Linked DNA regions of Homo sapiens: region 1 is linked to region 2. Evidence: fine-mapped expression QTL. Tissue or cell type: esophagus mucosa. Region 2 holds a variant in brackets; the other region holds the start of a gene. All regions are shown on one strand. Distances are from middle to middle.

Region 1 (8,105 bases), 130 kb after region 2:
CTCAATAAATGGTGGTTATTTTAAGCCATTACGTGTGGGGTGATTTGTTACACAGCAATAGATAACTGATACTGAATATATAAGTAATTTCTCAATAAACAGTGGCTATGTTTTGGACAATATTATACTTAATATAGAATGAGTTTTTCATAGTACTAACATTTGTGCTTTTTAGTCAGAAGTAGGAACATGACTAAACCAGGAATTGGGACTCTGAGATTCCAGTCCCAGCAGTTTTTCCAATGGGCAGCTGTATGACTTTGGACAAATCAATTAACCTCTTTGAGACTCAGTTTCCTCACCTGTAAATTAAGGTGGTTAGACCAAGTAACTTTTAAGGTTCTTTTCCAGCTCTAAAAAGGATCAAGGGTCCTTTTTACCAAAAGGCAGTACTTCTTCCTTTCTAACAGATAGTTTTGAACACAATTTAATGTTTTTCTTGTAGACTTAGGGTTTAATCACAGACCACCTTCACTGTATTGTCTTTGCTGCCTAGCATTTGGCTGTAACCACATTTCATACTTATCACAAGAGCTGTACATTGAAACTATAAAGTAGATCTTGCTGTGGACCAGGAACCCAGGTAGCCAAGCTCATTAGGAATCAGAAATGAAATAATGCCAAATAAGTTCTAGTGGGAATCTTAAGTATGTGACTCTTAACAACAATTTGAAGGTGCAGGTGGACTTCTTTTATGCATTTCTAGGTTACAATACATATTCTGGAGGACTAAGGTTGTTGACAATCTGACCAAATAAAAGCAGTACTATTTCACAGCTATACAGAATCAAATCTTTGTATTTATTGCACGTTAATAACCAAGATATATGATACTCAGTTATCAAATGAGGGAAAACAACACCAAAATCAAATTTCAAAACTCCTGTGTGTAGACATCTACTCCACAACTAGTGATCAAGTGAATAAATTTAAAATACATCCAAATACACATTGTATTAAAAAGCTATGCATGCGGCAATGAGTCAATAACCAAGGTGACTTTTGTTTGTTCACAGGCATTATGTATAGCCTCTCACACGTCACTAATACTCTTACAAATATAATACAGTCCTCTCTGTGACATACAGCAGGCCATGTTGTGGTCAACTGAAAACAATAAAAAAGAAAGGCTGTTCTACTGTCCATTTCCACTAGTGTTAAACAATCAAATGTCAGGGTGTTTTTACTCCCAGAAGGAGTTAAGCTAAATCAGAGAATGTGTATATAATATGAGGGCAACAGTTTACTTCAGCTTTGCCTTCAGATGTAGATATTTAAGTCTGTAGAAAGAAGCACTAGGTTGTTGAAAATGTGAAATATAATTGGCTATTTATCAGAAACCTTTTTCTGTGATTAAAAACCATGAGGAGCTCTAGAGGAACTAGAATCCACATGAACATTGCAATGAAATGTGGCTTACATTTATCTACCTAGAGAAAATGTATTTTGAAATGACATGTAAATTGACGTCAGAGATTCAAGTCAATTAATGGGTTCTTACAGTTAAAATCTTAAATACCAGTGCTTCTTTAACTATCTTTCGAATCAGTTCACTTCTCTCTCTCCTCTAATTTAAATTTTTGCCGCAGCTGCCTTTGGTCTTGGTTGTATCTTTCCTGTTTCATTCTCATTGCAGCCTGCATGAACTCTCTAAAATAGAGATCTGCTGTGCTTAAGATCCTTCAATGGTTTCTCCCAAGATATTGGGATCTCTGAAGACAAGGACTGTGTCCCCAGAAACTCATCGACTCTCTGGTGTCTCTGGGTCTACGCACATGATGTCTCCAAGGCCAGGTCAGGGTTTTATTAAATTTTGTAGAACCACTTGTACACTGAACAGAACAGAGTTCAGCACTTCTGATAAAGTTTGAGTGAGATACAATATTCCTTTTGTCATTTGTTAATATTCATTGCAGCTCTGGAACATCTTTTCTACAATGCCTGACAACACTGAGTCAGAGTTTTAATTTTCTGTTTCAGGACACGTATTCATTGGCTTGGTGTTTTACGTATGTTTTAGGAAAGGATTATTTGATAATCTACAGTCCTGAAGATTTTAACTAACCTCTGTGGGACTATGATATTCTCGGGTGAAAAGGGTACAAGTAGATGAGCGATTTCATTTTCAGTTTATTCTCTTAAATAGCAGTCAGAGTAAGAAAGGCTACAACTGGAGACACAGGATGGCTCAATGGTTAAGAGCAGGCACTCGAGAAAGACTACATCTGACCTGCACATAGGTGAAGACTCCAAGTCGGCTTCCCCTAGGATGACCCCTTTAACTCAACTCTTTTCTACACACCTACAAAGTCTCTCTGTAAGCATGTAATCTAATGACCAAAAAGAATGACCAAAAAGAAAATCTGCCTAATGACCAAGAAAGAAAAGCAGGACATAGGTACTAGTTACTATTTAACCAAGACTGTAAAAGATCCCAAGATTCAGGGTTACCAGAAAAATTGTGTAACTAGGGGAATGTGAAACACAGTCTAGGGAGAGGAAACCTAGCTACTGGAAGGCTGGTATTCAATTATTTGGAAACTGGCGTCTATTCCAAGAAGCACCGTGAATGGGCTTCCGGGCACCAAGAGCGGGCTGTTCTAGGAGGAAAGGGGCCGGCCCTACCTGTGCTCTGCCCTTGGGCTGCAAATGGATTCTGGCCGGAGCTTAGCCAGGTTGTATTTCCGGCTCAGAGAGGGTCTGGGTGGGACGTCAAGGGAATCATTCCATGTTTAGGATAATGGAACGTGTTGAGTTGGTATGCAAGGTTTTGTCTTCAATCCCAGATATCCAAAAAGCTCTTTGAAACACAGGAAAGATTGGCCCTATTTCTCTTTAGGTATCATTATTTATCTAAATCTCCGGAGCCATTGAGGACCAAGATCATACTTGCTGAATAAATGCACGGAGCAGGATCAGAGGATAGACACAGAATGGGCCAAGAAGAGAAGTAAGCCACACCTTCCCTTCCTGTCTCAGCATCTGTTCCATTTCTGCTCAGTGACCCAGGCAGCTTGCTGTTAGCTGACTCTTCACACTTTAGGGAAATACAAATAACTCCAGAACTTAACTTTACCTTTGAGCTTCAAATTGTTTCAATTATGTACCTTGTTTCAATTATCTGCCTCCTGACAGTGTTTCACAGCTGGGACCAGTAAGGTGGTCTATGATCTTTAACATCTGTCTTATCCTTCCTAAAATAGTATCAACTGAAGGATTAAATGGGGAAGGGGGAGGGGTAGGCAACAAATATAGACTCTATTATGTTTAAAAGCAGTAACCGCTTTCCATTTCTTTCTCATTCAACTCTCAAATGCTTCTCTTCTTTTCTCCAGATATTATTCCTCATAAGAGCTTGCTTGATTGCAACCACCAAGGACATCCACAAACCAGGGCAAGAAGGACCATCCGTAATTCTTTCCCATAAATAGTGACAGGAAGAAAATAAACGCCCTATTCTTCAATGATTTGAACCACCTCTGGAGCACAAACTTTCTCTAAATTCACAGGGCAAATATCCATCATGGGGCAGGTATCTATGCTGCCATGGAAAGTAACATAAAATGTACTAAGTCATCACAGGGAGTTTTAATTTTGTTTTTAAGGTCAATTGCCATGCTGGGGTAAAAAGCATTGATCCTTGCCTTTTATCACCGGAAAAATTCTTCACCAGTACTTTGTGAAAATCTCGCCTCATCAGGGCTGCCAAGGTCAATGCAACCTAAGTAACCAAGCTGGGAGATGCTTGCCTAATTATTAAATATTTAGCAAACAGTTTGTGACTATTTAACTGTTTGCACCTGGCACCCTCTTTTCACTACGTGAGGCCTCCTGGCACCCTGACCTCTTCCCCCACCCCTACCCACTGCCCAGGCCGCCAGCACCCCTGGGGGGCAAATACCGGGACCCAAGGGCATTTCAAAGAAACAGCAGAGGTCACATTCCATTTCCTTTTTATTAAAAAACATACTTAAAATGGGGGAGGAGGGCACAGATCTAAGGTAAAATCTCTTGCAGTTTTTTCAAGTTCGCATGCACCGTTGAAAGTTCATTAGTTAGGGATTTAAAAGCAAAAATGTTTCACACAACCAATTAAACGCCAAGCTTTACAAACGCCTTGGTCTTTGGTTTTGGGAATCTGTAAAAGTCCGCCTCCCCCCACCCGAGTTTTGCCCCTTTTAGAGCCCCTTTGTTGAATTACGTGACTTTTCCCGAAGTCATCAAACTTTGAATTGCGTCTCTAATTTTTTTTTTCAGGGCAAAAGCAAATCAAGAAATTAAACTTAAAAGTAGGCGACTCGGAGAGAAGTGGGGGAAAGCTCGCCCCAAAGCCAAGTTCCGCAGGACTAAAGCCCTCTTTGCGCGCGCGGGGCGGGGGATTGTCCCTACCTGGGGCCAGACGGCGGCGGCGGCGGCGGCGGCGGGGTCCCGGCGCCCATGGCTTCGCCGGCCTCGGGCAGCCGCGCCGGGAGACGCTAGCGGCTCCGCGCTGCCCTGAGCCCGCCGAGCTCGCAGCGGCCGCCCCAGCGCTGTCATTGGGCCCGCGCGTCACGTGGCCCGGGCTGCGGGTGAGCCTTCCCGACACGCGTAACCCTTTACCTGCACGCCCCGAGGATGCGGCGGGGCTAGGGCTCGAAACCCTGGAGTACGATGTCCGACATCCCCGGGGCCGGGGTGGCAGTCCCGGGCGCACTGAAGCAGAAAATCCACGCGCTTGTTGGCCTCTGAGCACAAACGACCGCGCCAACCGCCTGCCATCACGGGAAACTCCGGGGTGCTTACTCCAATGTTGCGCTGGAGAGAAGGGAGCTTCCTATGATCAAGGGACTGGAGTACGGGGATACACAAAACAAATGCACCCGCTGGCAAATAGTTGTGTACTCCCAAACCCCGAGAACTTGGCATTTTTCAGTTTCCTCCTTATTTCTGGCATTCGCCGCCTAGACCTGCTGTGAGTTCCATGGCCAGCCCTGTATGAGCTACATGGACCTAGAAACAGCGGGGGCGCCACCACCACGATAAAAACCAGGGAAGTTGCACACACTCGCCTGCACCCTAAAGGCCCCAGGGGGAGTTCAATGAACTCCTGGTTCCCCGTCCCCTCCTCACCCACTCCCCCTCCATCCCTTTCTTTTCCTGAGGTCTTAGGGCATTGGCCACAAGACTGCATCCAATCTACTGAGTTCCACATTCGTAGCTGTTACAATCCATATACCTAAGGCGGGTGGAGAACTGACTCTGCTTAAGGACTGGACATTCTTTTCACCTGTGCTCCAAAGCAAATGCTGAGCTTGCCAAAAAAAGTGTTAAGCAACTGCGCCACCTAGCTTACCCTCTTCTCTCTTCTTTTCAACTCATCCAGCAAGAGAATAAAATAGGATATTGGAGAGGCATCTGGACAGAGTATTATCTAAGGATGGACATAGTGTCCTTGGGTTTTCAATGTATCTACTTTAATGATGCCAGCCCCATTCACATGATATTTGCCAGGCTTTTGAGAATTTGAACACTCCATTTTTTGAATCCTTCTAATTTTGCAGTGCTGGGATTGCACGCTGTAAAGTGTTAGATTTTTGCAGGAAGTTATATGTGGTTTTACATCCTTTGTCACAATGAACGGCACTCATGTCCAACTTATAGTCGACACTTAATTGTCTACAGGATATTGATACATTTATCAAGTAGGTTATCTGTCGAAAAAGGGGTTGGTATTTGTATTGGGTTTCATTTTATTTATTTATTTATTATTATTTGAGACAGGGTCTGGCTGTTGCACACAGGCTGGAGTGTGATGCGATCTCAGCTTACTGCAACCTCCTCCTCTGGGGATCAAGGGATCCTCCCACCTCAGCCTCTGGAGTGCCTGGGGCTACAGGCTCATGCTACCATGCTCGGCTAATTTTTGTATTATTATTATTATTATTACTATTATTATTATTATTTTTGTGGAGACTAGGGTGGGGGTGGGCTCTCCTAAACTTGCCCAGGCTGGTCTTGAACTCCTGAGGTTAAGCAATCCGCTCGCCTCGGCCTCCCAAAGTGCTGGGATTGCAAGCTGAGCCACCGCGCGCCCCAGCCTGCCTTAGATTTTAAAGTGCAGTTCCTAGACTAATAGCATCGGCATAATCTGAGAGAATGTAGTAAAAATGCAAATTCTTGGGACCCACCCCAGACGTATTGATTCAGAAATAGTTGGGGAGGGAGGGTGAAGAAATCTGTGTTTTAGCAAGTGGTACCTACTCCAGTTTGCGAACCGTTGCTCTGAATATGCACAGGTAGCTGGCGAAGTTCCCCTCATCTATTAAATAGTAAGGGCTGGCATTCTATAAAGCTAGAGGTGCTGCTTTTATTTGTATCCCTAGATTACCAGTTTTATGTAATCTGTCATGTTGATACACTGAAACTGAACCCTCCATGTGTCCATACAACGTGTAATCTGTACTTCTTGCAGATCTCTTGGAATGCCAAATTGAGATCTGAGGGGCCCTTGTAAAACATATGGAAGAAAAACCTATGGTTTCTTGATGCACACCAGGGTGAAAACACCATGATTCACTTCATTTTTTAGGTGTGCCCATGTTTTCACTGACATGTAAATTGTTCCCAGCCAATGAGTCATGAAAGATAGGAAAGCTAATTTTTTTGAGTGGATTTATCAACATGGTTCCAAATTTGTGAAAGAGTTCTAAAAAACAAACAACATTAAAAACATTATGGTATCCGTTTATGTTATAGCCCAAAAAACTCCCCACACCATATTAGGCATTGCAGTAAGGGCTCCTTGCAATCCATTGCAATCTCCTTACTGAGAAAGAAAGAACTGAGTGGGTTTTTATTTGAGTTTTCTCCATGGGATAGATAGACTATTTCTAATGGGCTAGATGGATGTCTTACTTTTAAACTCTCTAGGTCCAAGTTTGTTTTGTGATTTTCCCCCACTTTCATCCCCTGTTCACTTTACATTTGTAATTCTATCTACTCAATTCCAATTGGAACTGGAATTATTTGAGTTTTCCCTCCCCTTCATCAAACACCTCTATCCATTAAGCCCTGAAATAAATCTTGAATTGCCCCTACTCTAAGCAGGTTCTAAGATCAGGTTCTAACACTTTCTAACTGAGATCATGGCCATGGTCTTTACTGGTCTCCCAGCTTCTGATCTTTTCCATCTGAAAGCCATCTGACAAAGTAACTGCCCTTCCCCAAAACTTTTTTTCCCAGCTCCCTGTTGAAACCAGCGCAATTTTCCAACAAGCCAAATGCCCATAGCACTGAAGCTTGAGAAACTTACACCTGCTGCCTGTTGACCAATTCCTCTTCCTTAACCCTCCCTAATTCCTGTTTTCCTATAGGAGGTTACAGTGAGATGCTAGACACCTGCTGCCTATTGAGCAACTCCTCTTCCTTGCCCTGCCTGTTTTCTCCCCCCATATAAACCCCAACTTTAGCCAGGGGAGATTCAGATTTGAGTCTTGTCTCCTGTCTCTGGCTGATATCACCCATAATAAAGCCTTCTTCCCTGACAATACTCATTGCCTTAGTGATTGGCTTTCTGTGTAGTGAGCAACAGGACCTAGGCTGGGCCCCTGGCTTTCAGTGACACTATTGACTACTGAATAAAGTCTAAAATCCCAACAGCATTTGAAGTCGCCTGAAATATGCTTCAATGCCCATTTTTGCTCATGCAGCTTCCTTTACCTGAAATGTCTCTCTGACATTGACAGCTAAGTCCTAATTATTCTTCTAGCCTCAGCTCTATCTCCTCTGGGTCAACCTTTTCGATATTCAGGTAGTGTTAATTGCTCCTCTGTAGTGTATCCTCAGCACCTGGCTCTCACTCTTACTAACTTTGAAATCAGTCTCATCTGGTTTAGCTGTGTCTCTTCTAGACTGTAGGGTTCTGGATGGCAGGAGTCATGCGTGACTTTTCAAATCATTCCAGGATCTAGCATAATGCCTTGGGCATAGCAAGCATACAGTGTTGACTGTTGTGTTCTTGGCTCTAGGAAAGAAGATATTTAAACAAACTCTATTTATTTGAAATGCTTTTTTGCAAATATTTATTAACTTCTCTACATTTTCTTTGAGAACTAAAAGGAGAGGGG
Region 2 (8,105 bases):
TTCTGTGTTGCTTTTCCTACCGCTGGGCCAATCTCAGCTATGATTTGTGGACCTGTTCTTTTGCAGCTCAAAGACATGCCCCCTTGGGCTTCCTGGCAGAAGGTGGACTCATTTCCCACTTGCCCACTGTTCCCTGACCCCTCCCCAAGCTGGGCTTTTCCCCATCATTTCCTTTGGAACAAAATCTTCTCTTCATATAAAACTGACCATGTTGGCCTCTTCCTTCCTCAGAACATCCTAAAAATGAGTATGGAAGCATCTCTTAGATATTATTCATTTCTAATATCTACAGCCTTTATTTTTATTTATTATTTTTTTTTGAGACACAGTCTCACTCTGTCGCCCAGGCTGGAGTGCAGTGGCGCAATCTCGGCTCACTGCAACCTCTGCCTCCCAGGTTCAAGCGATTCTCCTGCCTCAGCCTCCCAAGTAGCTGGGTTTACAGGCGGGTGCCACCATGCCTGGCTAATCTTTGTATTTTTAGTAGAGACAGGGTTTTGCCACGTTGGCCATGCTGGTCTCAAACTCCTGACCTCAAGTGATCTGCCTGCCTTGGCCTCTCAAAGGTCTGGGATTACAGGCATGAGCCACTGTGACGGGCCTACAGCCTTTAAAAAGACAAGCCAAAACAGAATCTGCATCCCCAGTCTCCCTGTCTCCATGAAGCACATGCACCAGAAAGAGACATCATTCATTGCTGGCTGTGTCTCTGTCTCCCATGTTGTCCCTCCTTCCTTCTTTCAATCATAGGTGAATTTCCAGGGATGCTGCTTCATAAGCTTTTGTCCACAGTGAATATGACTGGTGCTTTTTAAGAAGTACAGATTGGTTGCTTAGTTAAAAGGGACTAGATTTACATTAAAAAAATAAAATCCACAAATAACTCCCTATGGTAGGCTGAAAAATGGCCCCCAAAGATATCCACATCCTAATCCCTGGAACCTATAAATAATACCTTATATGCCACCCCAGCCCCCAAATTAAAGGTATTTGCAGATGTGATTAAGTGTAGGATTTTCAGATGGTACAATTTGCCTAGTTTATCTGGGTGGACTCTAAATACAATTAAATAAATGCTTATGAGAAGGAGGTGGAGGGACATTTGATTATAGACAGAAGAGGAAGAGGCAATGTGACCAAAAAGGCAGAGATTGGAGCAAGGAGGTCACAAACCAAGAGTACTGGCAGCCCCCCAAGCTGGAAGAGGGAAGGAACAGATTCACCCCTGGAGCCTCTGGAAAGAGTGTGGCCCCGGTGACACCTTGATCCCTGATACCCACCCCTGGATCAAGCCCACTGATACCAATTTCAGACTTCTGGTCTCTAGAACTGGGAGAGAATAAACTTCCATTGTTTTGTTTTGTTTTGTTTGTTTTTTTGAGACAGAGCCTCACTCTGTTGCCCAGGCTGGAGTGCAATGGCACAATCTCGGCTCGCTGCAACCTCTGCCTCCCTGGTTCAAGTGATTCTCCTGCCTCAGCCTCCCCAGTAGCTGGGATTACAGGTGCCTGCCAACACGCCCAGCTAACTTTTATATTTTTAGTAGAGATGAGGTTTCACCATGCTGGCCAGGCTGGTCTTGAACTCCTGACCTCAGGTGATCCATCCACCTTGGCCTCTGAAAGTGCTGGGATTACAGGCGTGAGCCACCATGCCCGGCTGCTTCCATTTTTTTAAACCTCTAAGTTCGTAGTAATTTGCTGCAGCAGCACAGAAAACTAGTAACATCCCCAAATCACTTCATGCTTGAGGACCAAACCCCTTGTCCTTCCAACTCTTCCTGGGAGGACTCATGGAATGTAGAAGAGTCCCTCGGACCAGCCGTGCATCTCTTGCCACCCTCTTTCCTTACCGTGCTCCACCCTTCTTCAAGTCTAATTCTCAGCACTTAGGACAGCACCTGGTACAGAGCAGGCAGTCAATAAATGTGGAATGAATGAATGATTTAATGGCTATGGATTAAAAACGAGAGCACTATCAGTGAACCTGTTGTGTGTCTGCAACCAATCAAGACATTTCCAGTTTGTGCCAGCCGTGTCGCCCAGGTGTTATGAGGGTGGGCTCAGGAGACAGAAAACCCTGCTACTGTGGGACTTTGGGCCTCAGTCACTTGGCCTGTAGATGGGGATAATAATATTCCTACTATATAGTGTTGCTGGGGGTCATATGAGCAAACATTCATAATAAACATAGACCAGGGGTGTCTTAACCACCCCATTTGGATACAGCATATTAAAACACACCCCCCAAAAAGAAAAAGATGGAGGTCTAGTATCCAAGAAAGATATAATCTAGTTGCCAGAACCTATGCATACAAACAAGAGTATTAACAATGTCAAGTAGGACTTGTTTCTGGAATAAGGGCTACATGGTATATTTCTATCAACTGTGACACCAATTGAAAGATAGAAAACCCCAAGTACAACAACAGTCCCGTAGACAGAAAAATCGCTTTTGCTATGGAACTGTGTACACATGTGTAACATTGTACCTTTCAGAATACTCTTAAACTACCCCATTTCTAAAGCCCAGGATTTTATTCCCAGCCTCTACTCCTCCTTTACTTTCCTTTTCTGCTGATAATTCATAGATGAGCTGGATAAATAGGACAGGCGAGAAGAAGCACGTGCACCTCCTCCCCTCCCTCAACACCTCTCCTCACCCCTCTCCTTCCTCAACACCTCTCCTCTCCCCTCCCCTCCCTCAACACCTCTCCTCTCCCCTCTCCTTCCTCAACACCTCTCCTCTCCCCTCCCCTCCCTCAACATTTCTCCTCTCCCCTCCCCTCCCTCAATACCTCTCCTCTACCCTCCCCTCCCTCAACACCTCTCCTCTCCCCTCCCCTCCCTCAATACCTCTCCTCTACCCTCCCCTCCCTCAACACCTCTCCTCTCCCCTCCCCTCCCTCAACACCTCTCCTCTCCCCTCCCCTCCCTCAACACCTCTCCTCTCCCCTCCTCTCCCTCAACACCTCTGATCTCCCCTCCTCTCCCTCAACACCTCTCCTCTCCCCTCCCCTCCCTCAATACCTCTCCTCTCCCCTCCCCTCCCTCAATACCTCTCCTCTCCCCTCCCCTCCCTCAATACCTCTCCTCCACCCTCCCCTCTCCTCTCCCCTCCTCTCCCCTCCCCTCCTGACCCTCCCCCTCCACAATTCGCTCTGAAATCCTGACCCTTTTCATGCCTGCAATACTTTGTTTATCCTGGACTCTTTAAAAGCAAACCAACCAACAAACAACAACAACTAGTCAGGAGGATAGGTAGTAAAAAAAAAAAAAAAAACAAGTCAAAGAAAAGGAGAAAAGAGCTTAGAACTGTTTGAGAAACAAGGAAGGCAGACTGGATTGTAATAATGTAACTGAAGCAATCATAAAACATTACTCATTGAAACATCTCAGGTCAACTTTATGATGGTGAATTCAAGAGGTGTACAGGGGAAGGCGAAAGAAAGGAGGAAAGAAAAGAGGGAGGAAAGGCGAAGGAGGGCAAGAAGGCGAGGAAAAGCAGGCAGGCACATCCAGAGTGACACCTTGCACTCCCAGCTCCTCGGAGGCTGACCAAGATTGACCCTGGGGCACCCTCCATCCCCGCCTTCTGCTGCTATAGCCAAGACCACAGGAGCAGCCTGCACCGAATGAAGTGAGTGCTGAGATTTAACAGCCGTACTCGAAAACTGCCCCTTCCCTGCTTCTGAAGGAAATATACATCATTTGCGGCTTTTAGGCTCCCCTCCTTCCCCAGGAAAACCACAGGATCTATACTGTTCTTCCAAGCTGCACAATTACAAAGGATGTTGTGGTGGTTTTCCTCTTTCAGAATCAGGTTTCCAGTTTGGGTCCTCCCCGGCTTGCCTCCCATTAGGGCACACCACATGGGTTTCCTATAGACCTGGTCCCATACCTGAGGGTCATGCTTCCGCGCCTCTCCGGAGCTTGGCGGGGACAGCCTCTTCCTGGTTAGAGGTTCTGTCCTCTCTCACCTCGCCCTGAGTTTTCCTTCCCCAGCAACATTCCTTCTCTAGATCAGACGGACAGGCTCTAATGTCCAAGGTTGTGTGACTGCTGACGAAAAGGGTGGGGACTAATGTACTCACACCCAACCCCTGCATGCCTGTGTCTACAATTATTCTTCCTTATATGATGTGTCATATCAAATTTAATTCATTTCTTTTTTCATATGTCACTCCCACTTCTACATCTTGCATTTAGCAAGGACTTCTCCTAAGCCCAGGGGCAACAAG[G/T]AAATGCTCCGGGTCTAGCATGTGACACACAGCAATGAAAAAAATATGCTCTTTTGACGTAAGATTGGGTTCAAAATGAGCAGTCTATCAGCTGTCTTCCTTGCCTCCCTTTTGGCAACAGCTAGCTTAAAGGTAAGAATTCAGTTGTTGGGTACCCTTTATTACTGAGCAAAATCAAAATTTGCTTCCTCTTTGGAGCATAAAAAAGCAACAGGCAACAAAGGGAAAATCCTTCACAACCACTTCTTAGTTTACACAGGGGAAAAACAAACACCATTAGGATGGCTGTGTCCACCCAATGCTGCTGCCGCCTGCTTCTGCAGCCCTGTGTTGGGGGCTGACTCTGTTTTGTGTTTAAACAAGGCCAGGCTATCACGAGGTCAGGAGATCGAGACCATCCTGGCTAATACGGTGAAACCCCGTCTCCACTAAAAATAAAAAAAAATTAGCTGGGCGTGGTGGTGGGCGCCTGTAGTCCCAGCTACTCGGGAGGCTGAGGCAGGAGAATGGCGTGAACCTGGGAGGCGGAGCTTGCAGTGAGCCGAGATCGCACCACTGCACTCCAGCCTGGGCGACAGAGCGAGATTCCGTCTCAAAAAAAAAAAAACAAAAACAAAAACAAACAAACAATAAAAAAAGAAGGCCATGCTAATGCCATGTCAGTCATTGGTGAAGCCTCCTTGCTGGGAGGGTAGCAATGGAGGTAGGGGAAGGGCGAAGTCCAGGGAAGCCCAGGAGTTCTCCAGCCAGGCAGAGAAATTAACTGAGTATTCATTAGGAAGTCAAGGGCATATAGGAAAAGACTCAACCCATCTGGAAGCTGCCTTTAAATAGTGATAGCTTTGAAGAATGACAGGGACATTTTAAAAGGACACAGGAATCCACTTGTAGAAGTTTTACTGGCCAAATGTGGAACAACTGGAATATTAAAATAATTACTAATCTACAGCATTTGTAGCCAATTGAATAAAACAAGGACTTATGAGTCCACACTAAGATACATAAAGGGAAAGGGAACACTCTACCTTACAAGTAGGAAACCAGCTAACAAACATACGAGAAATACTGGAACTAGAAAAATCATTTGATAGCCATCATAATAATAGAAAAACCATTTGATAGCCATCATAATAATAATTGATGTCAGTAAGAAGTATCAATGGATGGTAGGACTAGTGGGTGAAATTTTGAGGAGGACAGGATATTTAGTCTTAAAGTAGCTCCCCCCCATATGATTAAGGACAAAATATTATCCTTACGTTGGAGAAACCCGGCATACAGCGCCTTAACCAAGTAATCAAAGGTAATAGTGCCATAATGAGACTAATCAATGGCATGTGGCTCCTGATAGGATGCACTGAGAACTTAGCCTCACTTCTGTGATTTCCTGACAAAAGAGCATACTCTGAGTTGAAACAACGAGGGATAGTCTGCAAAGCAACTGGCCTGTACTCTTAAAATAATGTAATGTTATGAAAAAGCAAAGAAAGACAGAAGAATGCTTCCAAATTCAAGGAGATTTAAGAGACATGACAGCCGATGCACTGCATGTCCTTCTTGCTAAAAGGTCGTTATTGACATAATTGGTAAAATCTGAATAAGGTCTGTAGATTAGGTAATCGTATTAAATTGATGTGAATTACCTGCTTTTGAACATTGTACTGGGGTTATATAAGAGAATGCTCTTGGGGAAGGGCAGAACAAGATGGCCAGATAGAAGCCTCCACTGATGTTCACTTCATTGCCCCACAGGAACACCAAATTTAACAACTATCATCTACACCAACAAGCACCTTTATAAGAACCAAAAATCAGGTACACAATCAGTGTACCTGGTTTTAACTTCATATTGCTGAAAGAGGCACTAAAGAGGGTAGTAGGAAAGACAATCTTGAACTGCCGCTGCCCATTCCTTGGCAGTGGCTGCATGTCGTGGAGAGAGCATCTGTGTGTTTGGGGGAGGGAGAGTACAGTGATTTGGGGACTTTGCGTTTGAACTCAGTGCTGCCCTATCAGAGCAGAAAGCAAAACCAGGCTGAAATCAGCTAAGCCACGACCCCCCAGCCTACCCACACACAGAGGGAGCATTTGGACCAGATCTAGCCAGAGGGAAATTATATATTCCAGTTGTTGGAACTTGAGTTTTGGCAAGCCGCACCACCATGGACTAAAGTGCTCTGCAATCCTAATACACTTGAAGGGTAGCCTAGGCCACAAGAACTGTGGTTCCTAGGCAAGATATCAGTACTGTGCTGGGGCCAGAGCCAGTGGACCTGGGGGGGCACCTGATCTACTGAGACACCAGAGTGGCTAAGGGAGAACCTGTGTCACGTGTCCCAAAACCCAGGCAGCACAGCTCACAGCAATGAAAGTGACCCCTTCCTTGTGCTTGAGGAAAAGACAGGGAAGAGTAAAGAGGACTTTGTCTTACACCATAGGATACCAGCTCAGCCACATTAGCATAGGGCACCAGGCAGAGTCATGAGGCCCCCATTCCAGGCCCCAGCTCCTAGATGACATTTATAGACACACCCTGGGCCAGAAGGGACTGCACTTCCTTGAAAGGAAGGACCAAGTCCTGGCAAGACCCATCACCTGCTGAGTGGAGAGCCCTTGGGCCCTGAATAACCAGCAGGAATACCCAGGTAGTACGCTATGGGCCTTGGGTGAGACTCTGAGATGTGCTGGTTTCAGGTGAGACCCAGCACATTCCTAGCTGTGGTGGCTATGGGGAGAGACTACTTCTACTTGAGAAAAGCAGAGGGAAAAGTAAAGTGGACTTTGTCTTGCACTTTAGGTACCAGCTCAGCCACAGTGGGGTAGAGCACCAAGCGAGCTCTTGGAGTCCCTAATTCAAGGCCTTGGCTCTTGGATGGCATTTCTGGATTTGCACTTGACCACAGGCAAGTCCACTGCCCTGAAGGATGTGTCCTAGGCCTGGCAGAACTTACTATAAACTGTCTGAGGAGCCCTTGGGCCTTAAGTGAACATCGGCAGTAGCCTGGCAATACTCTCTGTGGGCCTGTGGTAGTAATGGTGATAGGAAGAGGATCCTTTGCCTGGGAAAAGGGGAGGGAAGAATGGAAATGGCCTTGTCTTATGGTTTGAGTGACAGCTCAGCCCCAGTAGAATAGAGCACCAGGTAGATCTCTAAGGATTTTGACTTCAGTCCCTAGCTCCCACTTAGGGCCTGGGGTATCTTGTCACCCTGAAGGGAAGGACACAAGCCTGGCTGGCTTTGCACCTGTTGATTGTAGAGCCTTAGGGCCTTGAGCAAACATTGGAGCTAGCTAGCTAGTGGTTACAGAGGGCCCTGGGTAAGATCCAGTGCTGTGTTGGCTTCAGGTCTGACCCAGCACAGTCCTAGTGATCATGGCCACAAGGGTGCTTGTGTCACCCTATCCCCAGCTTCAGGTGGCTCAGTACAGAGAGAGAAACTTTTGTTTGGGGAACAAGAGTCTGCCCGGTAATCCAGTGAACTCTTTCAGATCTTATCCAAGACCACCAAGGTGATACCTCTATGAGTCTGCAAGAACCATAGCATTACTGGGCTTGGGGTGCCTCTAATGTAGATATGGCTCAGATCACAACACACAAGTCCCTTCGAATACCTGAAAAGCCTTCCCAAGAACAGGTACAAACAAGCCCAAACTGGAAAGACTATGAGGAATACCTAATTGTTCAATGCCCAGACACCAGTGAGCATCCACAAACATGAAGACCATCCAAAAAAAAAAAAAAAATGACCTCACCGAAAGAACTAACTAAAGCTCCAGGGACCAATCCTAGAGAAACAGAGATATATGACTTTTCTGACAGAAAACTTAAAATAGCTGTATTGAGGAAACTCAAAGAAATTCAAGAT

Direction of the effects. Alleles are on the strand shown, and positions count from the first base shown. SD is a standard deviation of normalised expression in the study named.
In carriers of allele G in region 2, the expression in esophagus mucosa of the gene that starts at base 4,505 in region 1 tends to be higher than with T alone (small effect, 0.31 SD a copy in GTEx).

Evidence for each region. PIP is the estimated chance that this variant, and not a neighbour inherited with it, causes the effect.
Region 1: PGCKA1 starts here. The variant in region 2 is fine-mapped to the expression of PGCKA1 in esophagus mucosa (GTEx, PIP above 0.99).

Annotation. Positions count from the first base shown.
Region 1 is chr4:37,450,325-37,458,429 of GRCh38, reverse strand. It overlaps PGCKA1 (PDCD10 and GCKIII kinases associated 1), which reads right to left and starts at 4,505. Exons shown (of 4, transcript NM_001104629.2): 1 at 4,390-4,505. LOC124900691 (a long non-coding RNA gene) reads left to right here. Exons shown (of 3, transcript XR_007058098.1): 1 at 1-1,794; 2 at 2,840-2,950; 3 at 3,336-4,113.
Region 2 is chr4:37,580,184-37,588,288 of GRCh38, reverse strand. The region is part of intron 2 of PGCKA1 (PDCD10 and GCKIII kinases associated 1); the gene reads right to left. It also overlaps a transcript of RELL1 not described here. Among named protein-coding and RNA genes, the nearest start is that of RELL1, 100 kb to the left of the region's middle. The variant G/T (reference allele first, on the strand shown) is at 4,241.